3 linked regions of the Homo sapiens genome follow. The protein of the gene in region 3 purifies or fractionates together with the protein of the main gene of each other region. This does not show direct contact. Each region holds a gene or a part of one and is shown on either strand. Other genes may lie near its edges.

Region 1 (3,655 bases), on a different chromosome or scaffold from region 3:
AAAATAGTCATGATATCAGAGATTTATTGGAATGGGGGTATGTAACGCATATGTCAAGGACTTTGGCTTTTACTTTTTATGACAGGAAACCTTAAAGGGTTTTGAGCCAGGAGAGGGACGTAATCTGATTTATATTTTTAAAAGATCACTCTGGCTGCTGTGCTCAGATTTAGGTTATTTGAATAGGAATAAGGTCAGAAGTAGGGAGACCAGTGGCAGTCAAAGCAAGAGATGATGGTGGTTTTTACCATAGTAGTGATAAAGGGAGTGAGAAATGATTAGATTCTGTTAAATTGTGAACGTAGAACCAACAGAACTTGCTGGTTGATATGTTATGGCATGTGAAAGAGGAATCAAAGATAACTTCAAGCCTTTTTACCTGCATAAGTGGAAGGCTGGAATTGCTGTTTACCAAGACAGGTCTATGGGAAGAGCAGAGATTTTTTTAAGCTAAGATCAGAAGCTCAGTTTTGGACACATTGATCATAGGATGCCCGTGAATTTTCCAAGTAGAGATATCAAATAATTAGTTGGATAGGAGAGTCGAGTTCAAAGTCAGCTATGTGTGGATGGTAATTAAAGCCATGAGATCACCAAGGGAGTGAGTAAAGTGAAAGAGATCTAACTGTGAAGATAGCAATGGCTGGTGAAATAGGAGGAAGGAAGCTTCTAATATTTAGCACATGGTAGGCACTCAAAAGAGATCTCTTAAATTGAAATGCTGAGTATCAGTAAGATATGACCATGCCAGGGAATAATTAGTGTTAGTAAAGGTTATTCTATTTGAAAAAGTTGAAAAAGATTAACTTTATTGAAACTGTTCTCAGAAAATAAGTTATTTTTAAAGTATTCTTTTTAATAGGCTATATATTTACTAACATTTATTTAGCACTCACTAGGTGTTATACATTGATCTTAGTGCTTTAAATGTATTCACAGCAATCCTATTAGGTCAGTATAATTATCCACATCTTATAAGTGAGGAAACTGAGGCACAGAGCAGTTTAGGTGACTTACACTGTTGTCACACAGCTAGTGAGTGACAGGACAGATTAACTCTGGCACTTTGGTTTAGAGCTTGTAAGTTTAATCTTTGTATTATTTTGCCTATTCCTTGCATTCTTGAATATTCAGAAATGTTTGTTGCCATAATACTACCAGTACTAATACTAGCAACAGATTCATGTATAGCACTTAATATAGTCCAGGCACTATTTTAAATACTTTACATGTATTAAATTAAATAACAGTAGTTGTATGAGGTAGGTACTTTTACAATGCCACTGTTAGAACTGAGGAAGCTCAAGACATAGGTTAAGCAACCTGTCCAAGGTTACATAATTAAATTGGCACAGCCAGGTTTTGAATTCATGACCAGCTAGCTCTAAAAATTTGTACTCTTAGCCGTTAGGCTATATTTCTTCTGTTGCCTTAAAATACTTAAATATCAGATGGCCTGGTTATATAATTTTTGGATCACCCATTTCCTTAAGAATCTATGTTGTCATTGTACCACTGTATTTTGTATAGAATGTTTCTGTGGGGAAGCCTGGTTTTTTTTTTTTTTTTTTTTTTCCCTCTGAAGTTCAGCAACTTCTTTGTTGACTTTCCCCTGGGACATGTGATATTATTTAAATCTTTAGATTCCAGGCTTTTCCCCCCTTCTCTTTCCTGGAAAGCTTTCTTTAAATATTGTTTTCTGTTCCATTATTTTATTTCTCTCTGTGTATGTTAGATGTCTTTTATCTGTGTTCCATAGGTATCATTTTATTTCTGATCTTTTACATTTTTTTGTTTAATTTTGATTTTCTCAGTCCTGTTTCCTACATCCTTTTCTATGTTTTTATCAGTGACTAGTCTTTTTTTATATTGGCTTATATTGGTTTCAGTGTGACTTTCATTTCTCTGATGATTCACTGTTTTCTTTCACTTTCTTGAGCCATACCAGCTCATCTTTCATCTCTTCCTGTTCTCTTGCCATATTTTTTCAAAGCTCTTTGTCTTTGCTTTAAGATTTTTTTTTTTTGGAGGAATTGTTTTATTGAGTGGTGTTAAATTGTGACAGTATCCTTGGTCATAATTTTTATTTGCTCTGTGGCAACATTTTTCTGCTGAGTTTTCTTTCACTGCCATGTGTCCCCTACCTTTGCTCTCTGCTGATTATTACTTATATTTGAATATCTTGAGTTCTTCTTGGACTAGCTATTTGCTAGTCCAGATATACAAAAGGGAAAGGTCACAATCATGTCCCCGACCAGCAGGAAATAACCCAATTTACTTAAGACTCAGGGTTACATGTTGAGTTACTTTAGGTTTTATTAGTACACATAAACAGAGATCAGAAACTTTAGGGGTGCTTGGAGTGTAGAGTGCTGTGCCCATAGTCTTTTTTTGAAAATACAGTGCACCTGTATGTTTCTGTATTCAGTTTACCTTCCCTCTTTTTTTGATATAAATTTCTCCATGGAAGCTCAAGTCACCAAGCATGCACCCTGTTCCTGTTTCTGCACATGAGAGGTATTGATTTTCCCCTCAGGGCATGCCATCCATTTTAAAGAATTGTGTTTTGGCAGCTCTGTTTGAGATCTGCAGTCATCCCTCTCAGCATCTTCCTATCTGACTTAGACTGCAATTGGCAGCCATTTCTCATATATTGTGCCTTATTGTTATAGATCTCTCTTGGTTTTATTAGAGTTGCTTTTCTGCTTTTCATTCTTGTTTTGGAGTAATTTCTAGAGAAGAAAAGAAAAATGCCATTTTACTCTGCTGTTTTAGAATAGGAAGTTATTATTGTTTAGCGGACTTAATAATATTTGACATTTTAATCTCTAGGTATTTTAATGAAGGGACTGTCCTGGCACATTATGCAGATGTCCTGGGTCTTTTGCTTAGACTGCGGCAAATTTGTTGCCATACTTACCTTCTTACAAATGCAGTGTCTTCCAATGGCCCCTCAGGTAGGTAAATTTGATTGCTTCATATCATTGTATTTGTCAGAGATACTTAAATAAGAGTGATAAATTTTTTTTATGTGGCATACATTTAGTTTATTTTGTTCTGTCAAATGGAGATTGCTTTTAGTGTGAGACTCAGCTAGGAATACATCCAATAATTTTTTTACCAATGAAATGGAATTATAATGAGGTCTTTCCAGGAATTCCGGTGATAGATACCCTTTGATGAAAGATTCATATTGGATCTGCCTTTTATTGTGTGGTGGTATGTTATTGTCATGTTATAATGATGCTTCTCTATGAGGTATATTATGTGAGTTGGCTACTATTTTGGCTTCTGAATGTTTCTTAAATTTCAAATTTAAATTATGCTTTTTGCCTATGGCAGAAAATGATGAGAGACTTTCCCTACTGGCAAGCGAAACTTTTCCTTATAAGATAGATTAACTTGTCATATTACAAACCTTGCTCTGAAATTAATTTTTCAGCCTTTTCTCTAGGAAATGATACACCTGAAGAACTGAGAAAGAAGTTAATAAGGAAGATGAAGTTAATTCTGAGCTCAGGTTCAGATGAGGAATGTGCAATTTGCCTGGATTCTTTAACAGTTCCTGTGATAACACATTGTGCACATGTATTTTGTAAACCCTGTATTTGCCAAGTCATTCAGAATGAGCAGGTTAGTTTTTTGCTCAGTACAG
Region 2 (3,655 bases), on a different chromosome or scaffold from region 3:
TCAGCATCCCAAGTAGCTGGGACTACAGGCATGTGCTACCACACCCAGCTAATTTTTTTTTACTAGAGATGAGGTTATTCTAGGATGCAGTCAAGTTAGTTGGATTCTGTTTGATCTTTCAAGGCTTGTTCTCAAATGTCTATTAGTGTGGATTTAGAACAGCCTTTAAAAGTTTCACTCAAAAACTTCCAAGTAATTGGCCTTACTACGAGGCAATACTCTTCAGAGTCTGCCTGATGCCCTGTGGATTGTGAGATCTCTCTGCTGAAGCTGGTGGAAAGGTGGTGGAAATAAATCCACTGGAACACGATTTATTTCTAGTTCTGTGTGAGATTGGGAGTTGTCTGTCCTACTGCTTTCCAGTGCTTCTTTATGCAGTTCCAGTTTTCTCATGAATGTGTAGATCATCCCTCCACCAAAGACTTGAGGGGACCCCTCTGCAGATCTCTGGAGCTTTCTCTCTGGGAAACTCTTCCTTCCTGTACTCTTCTCCACAAATTCTAGCTGTCCCAGCCTTCCCAAATCCTACTTTGTCTCAGTTCCTGGAGACCATCAGGTTGTGGTGGATTCTCCCTCCCTGCATAGCAGGCTAGGAATTGCCTCTAGACAGAAAACTGGGGCAAATGTTCAATTAACCCTTGTTGTTTCCTTCTTTCAGGGATTATGGTCTTGTGCTGCTTTTTATCCAATGTCTGAAAACTGTTGTTTCATATTTTGTTTTGTAGTTGTTTAAGGTGGGAAAGTAAATCTAGTCATTGTTACTCCATCATGGCTGGAAGCAGAAGTTGCCGTGTATATTGTCTAAAGTGGATTTATGCCAGTGGTTCTCAGGCAGATTTTATGGTTGTTTGTTTTTATCCTTACTATTGTCATTTCTTTGATTTTTTTCTTCTTACCCACTCTTAACTGATTCAGCCCTCCTCAACAGAAGTGAGAAAGAGAAAGTCATTTGAGCATTGTCTAAATACAGGGCACTTTAGGTACTGGGAAAAAAAATTTGTTCCTACCTTCATACAGATTTTGCATCAAATAAACAACACATAGGAAAGCAGTGAAAGGTTGAAGAAGAAAGGCTAGGGCCATTGAAAATTGTCCCTGTTTCTTTCTTTTTTTTTTTTTTTTTTTTTTTATTATTATTATATATTTTTTTGAGACAGAGTCTCACTCTGTTGCCCAGGCTGGAGTGCAGTGGCACGATCTCGGCTCACTGCAACCTCCACCTCCCAGGTTCAAGCGATTCTCCTGCTTCAGCCTCCCAAGTAGCTGGGACTACAGGCGCGTGCTACCATGCCTGGCTAATTTTTTGTATTTTTAGTAGGACGGGGTTTCACCGTGTTAGCCAAGATGGTCTCGATCTCCTGACCTCGTGATCCGCCTGCCTTGGCCTCCCAAAGTGCTGGGATTACAGGCGTGAGCCACCGCACCCGGCTGAAAATTGTCCCTATTTCTTAACTACAATAGTGAAAAACAGAATCGCAGAAGTGGTTATGAGTTAAGACTACTTAGAAATAAGAATGGAATCAGTGACAGAGAGGGAAAAGCATGGGTGAATAGGAGAGAAGACTAAGTGAAGAAGAGGGAAATTGGTGTTTAAGGAAGAAAATGGGAGAGGATGAGCTCAGACTCAGGTGAAGGAGAAAGCTTGTTTCAGTTGGAATGTTGGTCTGTTGTGAGGGCTAGTGCTCTAGGAGATCAAATAGCAGCCATTGGGACATGATCTGGTGGCATAGTGCAAAGAATATCTGCTCCCAGGCAGGGCGCGGTGGCTCACACCTGTAATCCCAGCACTTTGGGAGGCTGAGGCAGGTTATTCACCTGAAGTCAGGAGTTCTAGACCAGCCTGACCAACATGGCAAAACCCTGTCTCTACTAAAAATATAAAAATTAGCCAGGCATGGTGGCATGCGCCTGTAATCCCAGATACTCGGGAGGCTGAGGCAGGAGAATCACTTGAACCTAGGAGGCAGAGGTTGCAGTGAGCGAAGATTGTGCCACTGCACTCCAGCCTGGGCAACAGAGCAAGACTCTGTCTCAAAAAAAGAAGAAAGAATATATGGAAAATACAGAAGATTGATTTGACTTTGTCATGTCATTTCTCTTAGTTCCTGCGACCTGAAATACACAGAAGGAGTACAGTCCCTCAACTGGACTAAAATCATGAAGACCATTGTTGATGACCCTGAGGGCTTCTTCGAACAAGGTGGCTGGTCTTTCCTGGAGCCTGAGGGTGAGGTGCGTGAGTGTGGGGTTTCTTTTCTGGTACACAGTGTTGCCCGCTATCATTTGGTCAGTTAGAATGGAATATGAGTAGTACATAAGGGACTAGGCCATCTGGGAGAAGCTCTAAACACCACTTGATATTATTGTTTCTTCAAATTGATAAATTGATTGGGCAGTGGTAACTAACTCCTGACAAGATTTCTTGGAAATTACAAAAACTTTTCCTCAATGAGTTTCTTAGCATTTAGGGAAAAATCCTTCAGGGCATTTTGCAAAAATTATTTTTTAAAAAATGATCCACTTAACGTTTGTGTGATACGTAAATACAGAAAGTCTTTCTGTTGTTAATTTCCCTGGGTGAGGAAGGCTAACGTGAATTTTTCAGAAATGTAATAATACATAATAATAGTAAAATAATAATTGCACCTGACCACTAATTTTAAACAAGTCATTTTATCTCTTGATCCCTCAGATTATTTTGCTCTTGTTTTCTTCATGTAAATACTGGTATACTATGTGGGCTGAATTAATTCATTAAGTTAATAAGGTAAATGTCAAAAAAAAATCAGTATTATGCTCTAACTCACCAGGGGAGTGATGCTGAAGAAGGGGATTCAGAGTCTGAAATTGAAGATGAGACTTTTAATCCTTCAGAAGATGACTATGAAGAGGAAGAGGAGGACAGTGATGAAGATTATTCATCAGAAGCAGAAGAGTCAGGTTAGTCTTACAGAGCAAAGTTCGTCCTGGCTTCCTAATCTAATGTCATTTCTGAAAACTACTTTTTTTAGACTAAGAACTCTGTCGTTCCATTCTGTTCCCGCATGATGACTAACGCTTAATTAATTTTCTTCCAGACTATTCTAAGGAGTCATTGGGTAGTGAAGAAGAGAGTGGAAAGGATTGGGATGAACTGGAGGAAGAAGCCCGAAAAGGTTTTTAAAAATGTGTTGTTTTTTATTCATTTGTCTACGCACAAATTTCTAACACATTTCAATATTTTGAGGTGTTAGTATTGATGGCGTAATGAAAGTAACAAAAGAACACTATAAAAGTGCTTTGGAGCCACAGATACAACTTCATTGACTGAAGGAGAAAATGAGGTGTGGAATGTGTCCATACTCTCCAGTGGGCAGTGCTCTGCCAAACTGGATGCTGTTTTCATCTGCGCAAGCCCCCATCTTTCCTATAGCCATGATAGCCACATATTCATGTAATACTCAAGAATTAGCCTACTCAGTTTCCAAACCTAAATCCTATAATACTTTAATTTTCTAGGCTTCTTCCAGGTTAGGCATGTCTTTATAATGCTAATCTAGTTACTCTGAAGCCAAACCCCAAACAAACGTTTTAAAGCTTAAAAGGAAATAAATATTAACTGCTGTGTTCCAAGCATTGGGAATAGGTAGTTTTCATAGGTTACCTTATTTAACCC
Region 3 (3,655 bases):
CATATGGTGCCACTTGAGGTGGTACAAGAAATTTAAACAAATGTAAAGATGCAGTATGAATCATAGCTGTATAAAATTAATTGTAGTACATACTGTAATAATTTCCTGTTGCTATTATGAATTTCCACTTAAAATGCTGTGGACACTAATCATCTCTGCATGTATTGGAGTAAAATGTAATCTCTTGTTCTTGTGTATTTTTCATCATGTTTAGTACAATACCATAAACCTTGAATAACACCATGGGACCCATGTGAAGTGCCACTAGTGATGCTAGAAGTGCTCCCAAGAAGCCAAGAAGTCATGCCATTACAAGAAGTTAAATTACCTGGTACACACCCTAGATGGGTCTGCAGCTGCAGTTACCCATCATTTCAGACAGACACCTTATAAACAGGTAACATAAACACAGTATCGGTAAATGCAGTACTGTAAATGTATTTTTTCTTCCTTAGGAATTTATTTTCCTTTAGCTTATTGTAAGAATATAGTATGTAATGCATATAACAAACAACGTGTTAACTGACTTTACAGTAGGCTATTAGTAGTTAAATTTTGGGGAAGTCAAAACTTATACTCAGATTTTCAATTGTGCAAGGGGTTGGCACCCTTAACCCCATGTTGCTCAAGGGTCAATTGTACTGCCCTCTTATTGTCTTTGAGCATTCTTTTATTTCACCTCTCATTATGCATTATCTTTCAAAAATACATTTGCGTAGAACAACACAACCAGGTTCTTCTTGGCTGAGATTTAGCCATCTTATGCAACCAATAAAAGTGACTCCAGATAAAAGCAGACAAAAAACTTAACAGATGTAAACAGGAATCCTACAGCAGCCCTAAGAGTCCACAGTTCATATAATTTTAGTAAATCTTGCATGCTTTGGTGACTTTTTCAATTTCTATATCCTCATGAATAATTTTTTCAAAGTGCAGACTAACTGGATAAATGCTGGGGAAGGAAAATGAATTAAAACTAACATAATGCTCTAGATCCTAGCTATACAAACAAACTGGGATTCCCAACTAGTACTATCAGCACTACCTGGGAGCTCTTCACAAATGAAAATCCTAAGTGCCACCCTAGACCTACAGAACCAGATCTCCAAGTGATTCACATATATTAGTTAGTGAAACACTACCAAATCCATATGTCACTGAATCCTCAAAACAACCCTGTGAAATATGACTATACCTATTTCACAAATGAGGAAGCCTAAGCTCAGGAAGTTAAATGACTTACCCAAAGTCAAAGCCATCAATATTGGGAGATGCGATTCAAATTCAAATTTACCTTTAAAAATGTCTTTCTACAATGTATTGTCTCTCACAGAAAAGGTCACGTATTATCTAATAGAAATATGATGCAAGCCACGTATGCAATTTCAAATTTTCTATTAGCCACATTAATAATAAAAAGAGGCAGGGCATGGTGCCTCACATCTGTAATCCTAGCACTTTGTGGGTAGTGACACAGGAGGATGGCTTGAGCCTAGGAGTTATAGACCAGCCTGGGCAAGATGGTGAGACCCCCATTTCTACAAAAATAATAATAGAAAGAAACAGGTAAAATTAATTTCAATAATATATTTTATTTAATCCAACGTTTCTACATTACTGCTTCAGTATGTTTCAATATAAATTGTTAATGTAATATTTTATGTTCTTGGGTAAGCGTATGCATACTTCTTTGAAATCCAGTGTGTATTTTACACTTACAGCACAACTTAATTCAGACTGGATACATGTCAAGTGCTCAATAACTCCATGTGGCTAGTGGCTACTTTACTGGGCAATGCTGGTCTAGAATGTCTTGCATATTAATCTTGTTAAATACAAAACTGACAAGTCACTACAGGAATTGTTTAATAGAGACAATGAATTCAATGTTAATTTACCTAGACTTTTGCCGAAGACACATTAAAAAAGAAAACTGCATATTCTGTTATAATCAAAGTTAATGGGTTTAGGTAGCCCCAATTCTGCCAAACTGACCCATCACCTATTAACTCTCAGAATTTATACAGTTGACCCTTGAACAATGTGAGGAGTTAAGAATGTCTACACCCTGCGCAGTCAAAATTCCATGTAAACTTTTGAGTTTCCAAAAACTTAACTACTAATAGTCTACTATTGCCTGGAAGCTTTACTGATAACATAAACAGTGGATTAATATATGTTTTGTATGTTGTATTATATATTGTTTTCTTGCAATAAACTAAAAAAAAGAAAACATTATTTAAAAAATCGTAAGGAGGCCAGGTGCGGTGGCTCACGCCTGTAATCTTAGCACTTTGGGAAGCTGAGGCAGGAAGATCATGAGGTCAAGAGATCAATACCATCCTGGCCAACATGGTGAAACCCCGTCTCTACTAAAAATACAAAAATTAGCTGGGCATGGTGGCGCACACCTGTAGTCCCAGCTAATTGGGAGGCTGAGGCAGGAGAATCTCTTGAATCTGGGAGGTGGAGGTTGCAGTGAGCCAAGATCGCACCACTGCACTCCAGCCTAATGACAGAGCAAGACTCCATCTCAAAAAAAAAAAAAATCATAAGGAAGAAAAATATGTTTACATTCATTAAGTAGAAATGGATCATCATAAAGGCCTTCATCTTTTTCAGGAGGACGAGAAAGAAACATTGGTTTTGCTCTCTCAGGGGTGGCAGGGGCAGAAAAAAAAAGTATTGTATAAGTGGAACTACACGGTTCAAACCTTTGTTCAATGGTCAACTATAATTTCAACTGGGCACAAAATAGGGCATACATGTAATACTTATAACAATCATGTGAAGAAGCCCTCAGAAAACTCCCACATTATTTGAAACCAAAGTTTTTTTAAAGTTGGAGGAGAAGGGATGCTTTTATTTTAACCAATAGGGGGATGTAAAACAGAACAGTATGATTTCAACTACAGGCCAGAATTAATTTGCCAAACATAAATAACTCAAACATACATAATTCCTACTGGAATGAATGACCTGTAAATTTTACACCAAACTTAATATGATGATGTATGAAGAAGGTAACATAAAAAAAAGAAAAAGTCTAAAACCAAATTAGATACTTTGCCCCTAACAATTCTGGAGGAAAAAAACAGTGACAGGTAAAACTTAAAAATACACAAAGGGGTTTAGGGATTATCAATGAATTTAAATCTTGACCCATTCAAATAAGTGAAAAATAAATACAACTAAAAATGAAGTAATATTGTACCATTTATAATTTGTAACAACTCAAAATACTCATACTCCCACTTTTCAAGTCAGTCACAAGATCAAAGTCAAGAGTTTTTTTCAGGTAATAGATTCAAGCAAGCGATTATCTTTAATCAAAGAAAAAGATGAGCATATAACATCAATATAAATACATATAAAAACAAAGACAAATATCAATTATAAATATTTGAAGACTTACTGTATTTTTCTAATTATTAACAGCTAATGTTTAATAAGATTTTTGCCATTTATTCAAAATACACAAAACAGTAAATGTTCTACATGAAATCACTCAGTGACAGAAAGAAAAAATACTTGAAATGTTCCAACTTTTGGTACACAACTCAAAAAAAATTATATATACATAAAAGGAGTAGATAAATCAGGTGTGAGTTAGCAGACACATCTTAGTATTTTTTATAAACCAGTCACAAATTGA

The links.
Region 1: the proteins of RNF146 (region 3) and HLTF purify together in Homo sapiens (affinity purification with mass spectrometry; 4 studies listed by BioGRID and IntAct, with this or other methods). This does not show direct contact.
Region 2: the proteins of RNF146 (region 3) and SUPT16H purify together in Homo sapiens (affinity purification with mass spectrometry; 4 studies listed by BioGRID and IntAct, with this or other methods). This does not show direct contact.

The regions. Positions count from the first base shown.
Region 1 is NC_000003.12:149,041,468-149,045,122, reverse strand, and holds part of HLTF (helicase-like transcription factor), read left to right. Parts: intron 1-2,832; coding exon 2,833-2,957; intron 2,958-3,442; coding exon of another isoform or gene 3,443-3,454; coding exon 3,455-3,633; intron 3,634-3,655. UniProt on the Homo sapiens protein: Has both helicase and E3 ubiquitin ligase activities. Possesses intrinsic ATP-dependent nucleosome-remodeling activity; This activity may be required for transcriptional activation or repression of specific target promoters.
Region 2 is NC_000014.9:21,352,988-21,356,642, reverse strand, and holds part of SUPT16H (FACT complex subunit SPT16), read left to right. Parts: intron 1-2,102; coding exon 2,103-2,232; intron 2,233-2,810; coding exon 2,811-2,940; intron 2,941-3,077; coding exon 3,078-3,155; intron 3,156-3,655. UniProt on the Homo sapiens protein: Component of the FACT complex, a general chromatin factor that acts to reorganize nucleosomes. The FACT complex is involved in multiple processes that require DNA as a template such as mRNA elongation, DNA replication and DNA repair.
Region 3 is NC_000006.12:127,269,715-127,273,369, reverse strand, and holds part of RNF146 (E3 ubiquitin-protein ligase RNF146), read right to left. Parts: intron 1-3,655. UniProt on the Homo sapiens protein: E3 ubiquitin-protein ligase that specifically binds poly-ADP-ribosylated (PARsylated) proteins and mediates their ubiquitination and subsequent degradation. May regulate many important biological processes, such as cell survival and DNA damage response.